2 linked regions of the Homo sapiens genome follow. The protein of the gene in region 1 purifies or fractionates together with the protein of each later gene. This does not show direct contact. Each region holds a gene or a part of one and is shown on either strand. Other genes may lie near its edges.

Region 1 (3,968 bases):
TCAAACTAGCAGAAGTTTAAGCTTAATTAAAAAAAAGTCAGCTGGGAATGGGAGAGGGTTGTACTTTATTCTAATATTAATATAAAGAATCTAAACATTTAGATATGTCTGAAATATGTTTTTGTCTTTTGTATGATATAATTTATGATAAATCATTTCTTAAAATAATTAATCCACAAACTTCATCCAGGACCCTCACACTTAACAGTTATTTAGTGTCCACAAAGAAAATTACTGATCAAAGTCCCCAGGTCTCCAAAGCAAACTGAAGAATTTAATTGAAACTTTATCTTTACTTACACCTATCCATCTAGGAGAAACTAGATAGTGATCCTTTTATAGTAGAAAATTGTGTACCGAGACTGAAACTGTCACATCTGAGCTCAACAAATTCCCAGAGAGATTCATACAAATAGATTATATACATGAGAAACATTAACTCAAGTGATTCTCCGGATCTAAAAACACCCACAGCTTTGAGACACGATTCATTTTGCTATTATTCCTGAAATCATATGTTATAAACACACAATATGCTTGGTGATAAGTTTCTTGGTATCCTCTTATTGGATTTGTTTATAATATTTTTATTAACAATAATGTTTATCTGCTATATGCATAGGTATTTTTTGTGACCTTCATGACCAACTCAAAAATTCTGGAAATTGTAATGTGATCATACCTTGCTTCCATTTTCTCTCGCCTCTCGTTCCATCTTGAGGTCAGAAATTAGAAGATTCTTATACTTGTTTTTCCCATTACTGTTGTGATCATCTATTCTGTATTCCGAAGTTAGCTGCGCAGAGAGGGGACTGTCACTCAGGTTCAGTGGCTGTTCATCTTGCTCCAGCCCAGTTTTGCCATCACTGTTGGAGTCTCCCATCTCCCTGCTGTGTGTTCCCCCTGAAGCAATTGAACTGTGCCCCAGAGTCTCATTGCCATTAAAGCTCTCTGCAGCAGAATCATCTGTTGGAAAGGAAAAGTTATATTTTGATTTTAATTAATATGCTATTCAGAGTCTACTTCAACTAGCATTTATTGAGCTCCCATTATATGAATGGCATTTTACATACAATATGTAATTCATCCTCAGCAATAAGCTTGTAAAGCAGTTATTGTTATTTTTAATCTAGTAGGCACATGATAAGGTTTGAATGTTTTGTCCTCACTAAATCTCACATTAAAATGTGACCTCCAATGTCCATAGTGGGGTCTAGTGGCAGGTGTTTGGGTCATGAGGGTGGATTTTTCATGAATGGCTTGGTGCCATCCCCATGGTAATGAGTGAGTTCTTGCTCTGGGAGTTCATAGGAGAGCTAGTTGTTTAAAAAGAGCCTGGCACCTCTTCTCTCTCTCTCTTGCTCCCTCTCTCACCATGAGACAAACTGGCTCCCCTACATCTTCCACCATGATTATAAGCTTCCAGAAGCCCTCACCAGGAGTAGATGCTGGCACTATGCTTCATGTACAGTCTGCAGGGCTGTAACCCAAATAATCCTTTTTTCTTTATAAATTACCCAGTCTCAGGTATTCCTTTATAGCAACGCAAATGGGCTAACACAGCACATTTAGGCACAATAAGTGAAATAAAACAGGAAGAAGAAAACAGAATTGAGAGAACAGTTCAATCTCAAATGCAATCTCAAAGAAAAAAAAACAAAGAGAATTAAATAACTACCAATTATTTTGCAAATTGTTTTTGTTTTTCCAGTGAGAATATCTAGATTTGGTAAAAATTCTCTGATAAAAAGCATCATTTATCCTGCTGGTGGAATGTGCATCAGTATTAGCTGAATGACTGTTTAAGATGCATCTAAAGCATTAAAAGTCCTCATAAACTTTGTTCCAGTCATTACACTTCTGGGAGTTTAATACCTAAGAAGTTTAATCATTGTGTGTATCTCTTTGTAGGTAAACATTTATACCAGTGTTGTTCATAATAGCAAAAAATTAGAAATGACCTAAATTACCACAAATAGATTATTTAAATAAATGTTGAAATTGTTAGATTATTATGTAGTTATTCAATATTGCATTTTAAGATATGGGGATGTGAGTCATGAAGTACTAAACACAAAAATCTAGCTACAAAAGAGTGTGGTTGGTATGATCCCAATTTTGTTAAAAAAAAACACATAGACAAAGATTACATGAAATAACATTCTATTTTTCTTAATTTTATCTTATATGATAAAAATTTGCTACTGATTTTTAAAAATTATGATGGAAAAGGTATTAAATTGTTTCATTTAGTTAAAAGCTAGTAGTGAAATCATATAAATATGGCTGAGCAAAAGAAATATTATTCAATACTTGTGATTTTTAATTTTCTGAATGTTATCAAGTATGTTTTTTTGAGGGATGTAATGAAATAGTTAATGTTTTCTAATCAATTACATTCATGGGAATTATATTCAAATTCTGAAAGAGTGATATAACTCACATGTTCCTTCATTTATTCACTAACATTTGTTAAGTGCTTACTCTGACCAATATGGGGTTAAGTATTTGGCCTGTAAAGACTCTGTCTTCAACAAGGTCACAGATAATTAAGAGAGACAGAAAAACAAACATGCTATTAAAATGCAGAGCAAGAAGGCTGTGATCTAATACAAGGGATAAAGACATCATAGAAGGCTTCCTAAAGAAGGTGATATGAGTTGAATTCTCAAAGGTGAGTGAGCCTTAACCAGGTGGAGAAGTTGGGGAAGAGCATTCTCTATAGAGGGATCAGCACGTGCAAAGTCACAGAGGTCAGCATATGCAGGGCAAGTGAGAAGTAAGAGTAGTCTGGAGTGCAAGAAAAGAGAATGGGAAAAGATAAACAGAAGAAAAAAAGAGAATACCAAGAAAAGCATTTTGTTTATCAAAGAACTTGGATTTTATTCTGGGAGCAAATAACAGTTTTAATTTATTGTGGGAAGTGACATGGAAAAAGTTATATTTCAAATAGACTATTCTGACTCTGATGAGGAGAATGGTATGAAGGGGCAAAATGGAAGTTGGGGAGACCAGTTAAGAGATTTAGAAGTCATCTAATTTGGCATATTTAAAAGCTCAAACTTCTGAAGCAGTGGCAATGCAGAAAAAGAGGAGACAATTAGAAAAATCGTGAGAATAGAACTGGTACGACTAGTAGTAATGGAATAGGCAAGAGTCTAAGATGAAGCCAGATCTGTAGTAAAAAATTAAAAAACAGGCTGGGCGCGGTGGCTCATGCACTTTGGGAGGCCGAGGTGGGTGGATCACCTGAGGTCAGGAGTTTGAGACCAGCCTGGCCAACATGGTGAAACCCCCGTCTCTACTTAAAATACAAAAATTCGCCGGGCATGGTGGCATGTGCCTGTAATCTCAGCTACTCGGGAGGCTGAGGCAGGAGAATCGCTTGAACCTGGGAGGCAGAGGTTGCAGTGAGCTGAAATCGCGCCATTGCACTCCAGCCTGGGCAACAAGAGCGAAACTGCATCTCAAAAAAAATAAATAAATAAATAAAATAAAATAAAAAATATAAAAACAAAGCACATTAGGTTTAAGTTTAATTTGTAATGAAATAATATTATTTCACGCCTGGCCTGAAATAATATTTTTAAACAGTTTTCTAAGACTACCCTGTGAAAAATGTTAAAATATGTTCAAATGGCAAAATTCTAGTAAATTACTTTTTATGTACCCATCAAAGAAAGAATTGATGTGGAAAGAAAAAATACATAGGAAAATTTAGGAAACTGGCCATAAATAATATGACATTTTTTATTACATGGTACTTTCCATAGGTATTAATCCAGGGATTCAAAATATTATTTTAACATGAAATGTCTAGGGTTTCTGAAATGCAGAATTAAGGGGATGACTTATATAAGTAATTTAGATAAATGTGTGCATGTTCTTTTTATGCCAATTCAAATTCTTACGCTAAATTATGAAGATGATTTTTATTACTTTATTATTTCCCACAAAAGTCCAAAGAA
Region 2 (3,500 bases), on another chromosome or scaffold:
GCCCAGGCTGAAGTGCAGTGGCGCCATCTCGGTTCACTGCAACCTCCACCTCCTGGGTTCACGCAGTTCTCCTGCCTCAGCCTGCCGAGTAGCTGGGATTACAGGTGCCCACCACCACACCTGGCTAATTTTTGTATTTTTAATAGAGACGGGGTTTCACCATGTTGGCCGGCTGGTCTCGAACTCTACCTGCCTCGGCCTCCCAAAGTGCTGGGGTTACAGGCGTGAGCCACCGTGCCTGGCCTGTGCCACCTTTTGTGCAAATACAAAATCAAGGCCATGAGTGGTGGCTCATACCTGTAATCCCAGCACTTTGGGAGGCCGAGGTAGGTGGCTCACTTGAGGTCAGGAGTTCAAGACCAGCCTGGCCAACACGGTGAAACCACAACTCTACTAAAAATACAAAAAAATTAGCCAGGCTTCGTGGCACATGCCTGTGATCTCAGCTACTGGGGAGGCTGAGGCAGGAGAATCACTTGAACCCAGGAGGCGGAGGCTGCAGTGAACAGAGATTGCTCCACTGCACTCCAGCCTGGGCAACAGAGCAATATTCCATCTGAAAAAAAAAAAATACAAAATCACAGTCTTAGGTAAGTGCTTTAAAATTGTGTGAGGTGCATTGGGAGCATAGGGGAAGGAGCCCTAAATCTATATGGGAAGGAGAGGAAGGTTTCACATAGCAGGTAGCAATTGTATTATAAAAATTGACTAAGAGTTTCAGACAGAGAAAATATAGCAGAGAAAATAGCCACGTCATGGAGGGGTGAGAGAATGTGGTGTGTTTAATAGTTGAGTATCAACAATAAAGTGGGAAAAGATAATAGATTTAAAAATGGTTAGGTAGGATTGATCAAATTTAGAGATTGTTTATGGGTGTGAAGGTCAAAGAGGAGTCCAAGGATACTTACAGGTTTTGGGGTTTATGGTGATACCATTTACTGAGGGGTTAGAACAGGATTTTGGAGGAAGTACTAAGTGCAGTTTGAGGTCTGTTGTGTTTAAAGGGCTTGTGGGACATTCAAGTGGTAAACTGCACAAGGAGGCATTTGCACATAAAAATCTGGGATTTGAGATTAGAAAGTTATCTACTTGGAGATGTAGGGCTTCCAGATAAAATACAGGATGCCAGGTTAAATTTGACTATCAAATAAACAATGGTGATTTTTACTATAAGTGTATTGCTTGCAATACTTGGAACATAATTATTCTAAAATAGCACTATTTCAGCTATAGCTAAAAAGAAGGTTTCCTTTTCCTGTAAGATAGCAGGACAGTTTGCTGAGCAATTTGTAGGTAAGGTGGAGGGGGCTGAGGGATGTTGAGGGAGTTCTTAGTTACTTGTTTTTACCTGGTGCAATTGAAACATCAATGAGCAGGAAAGATGTGGAGTTGGGACTCGTGAGCTATGAAGGTTTAGAAAAATTACTTTGTGAGGTAAAAGAAACTGGTCAGGGAAATATAACAGAAATACTAGAAAAATTTTAGAAATTGAGTTGATAAGGCAAAGAAATTTTTATTGAATCTGGCCGGGCGCGGTGGCTCATGCCTATAATCCCAGCACTTTGGGAGGCCGAGACGGGCAGATCACGAGGTCAGGAGATCGAGACCATCCTGGCTAACACGGTGAAACCCCGTCTCTACTAAAAATACAAAAAAATTAGCCAGGCATGGTGGTGGGCGCCTGTAGTCCCAGCTACTCCGGAGGCTGAGGCAGGAGAATGTCGTGAACCTGGGAGGCGGAGCTTGTAGTGAGCCGAGATCGTCCACTGCATTCCAGCATGGGTGACAGAGCGAGATTCTGTCTCCAAAAAAAAAAAAAAAATTTTATTGAATCTTAAACACTCATTTTGGTAATTTGAAGATGTATATAATATTTTTAATGTCCTCTTCATTTTGCAAGTGTCAATAAATATTGTTATTTAAGTATAATGTTTAAGAACATGCACTTTGGATTGAATAGACTTAGATTCCTTCATTTAGCAAGTATTTATTAAATGCCAGTTATGAAACTAATAAATAAGTATGAGAACTAGCATTTTGGCCAGGTGCAGTGGCTCACGCCTGTACTCCCAGCACTCTGGGAGGCCAAGGCGGGCAGATCACCTGAGGTCAGGAGTTCGAGACCAGCCTGACCAACATGGAGAAACCCCGTCTCTACTAAAAATACAAAATTAGCCAGGCGTGGTGGCGCATGCCTGTAATCCCAGCTACTGGGGAGGCCGAGGGAGGAGAATCGATTGAACCCTGGAGGTGGAGGTTGTGGTGAGCTGAGATCCGCCATTGCACTCCAGCCTGGGCAACAAGAGCGAAACTCCATCTCAAAAGAAAAAAAAAAAGAACTAGCATTTTGTGTACATATCGTGCTTGCTTTTGACTAACTGTAAGATGTCATTCTGTATACCTTATTTATATTAAGTCATTTGCCCCCTCCCTCCCCGTTGGCCCTATGGGTTAGGTAATATTATCTTTATTTTACAGATAAAGAAATTGAAACTAAGAAAGATTAAATAGCTTGTTTAGGAGTCAAGATCATATCTGTTTCTGTCTGCTGTTAGAACCTATAGTCATTACTGTTATGTTGACTGTGTTGGGCGATTGGGTATACAGGGGTGAGAAAAACAGGTATTGTCCATAATGGATGTGATCTTTTTAGTCTAATGTGTGTGTAGGGGGAAGGATGAATGTTAAGCATTAATCAAATTATCCAAATAAGCAATGAAATGATTTACTATGGTAACTGCTGTGAGAGAAAGGAGATGGGAGAGACTACTGCAACAGGGGAACTTAATTTCAGTTGGACCAGAGTTTGAATTCATTGTAGTAATTACTTTATATTTTCACATCTATGACAGTGCTATCTTGGGTTTTAGAACAGAGAGACTGGCTGGGTGCGGTGGCTCATGCCTGTAATCCCAGCACTTTGGGAGGTGGAGGTGGGTGGGTCACCTGAGGTCAGGAGTTCAAGACCAGCCTGACCAACATGGTGAAACTCTGTCTCTACTAAAAATACAAAAATTAGCTGGGCATGGTGGTGAGTGCCTGTAATCCCAGCTACCCAGGAGGCTGAGGATCACTTGAACCCGGGAGGGAGAGGTTGCAGTGAGCCGAGATGGCACCATTGCACTCCAGCCTGGGCTACAGAGCGAGACTCCGTCTCAAAAAGAAAAAAAAAACAAAACAGAGAGACTGGGTTTGATTCCCATCTGTGCACGTAGTCTCTTTGTGACCTTGGGCAAGTTGCTGAACATCTCTTAGCTTCACTTTCCTCATCTATAAAGAAGGCATATCTTATAGAGAGCACCTCTTTGGGTGCTCATAATACATATCATGGGAAGTGGTGAATTAATGCAATGGTTCCTAGTTTTTGGCATTTAATAGTCTAAAGAAATTTCTAAAGTAACTTTGGAACTAACATAGCTACTCATTTATTTTGCTATGTGTGGAGAGATTAAAAATACAACTGCCATTTATTACCATCATTGATTCAGAAAAGTAAGACT

Evidence for each region. The genes of interacting proteins can lie anywhere in the genome.
Region 2: the proteins of NOL4 (region 1) and ZMYM6 purify together in Homo sapiens (affinity purification with mass spectrometry; one large-scale study listed by BioGRID and IntAct). This does not show direct contact.

What each region holds. Positions count from the first base shown.
Region 1 is NC_000018.10:34,018,636-34,022,603, forward strand, and holds part of NOL4 (nucleolar protein 4), read right to left. Parts: intron 967-3,968; coding exon 683-966; intron 1-682.
Region 2 is NC_000001.11:35,021,946-35,025,445, reverse strand, and holds part of ZMYM6 (zinc finger MYM-type protein 6), read left to right. Parts: intron 1-3,500. UniProt on the Homo sapiens protein: Plays a role in the regulation of cell morphology and cytoskeletal organization.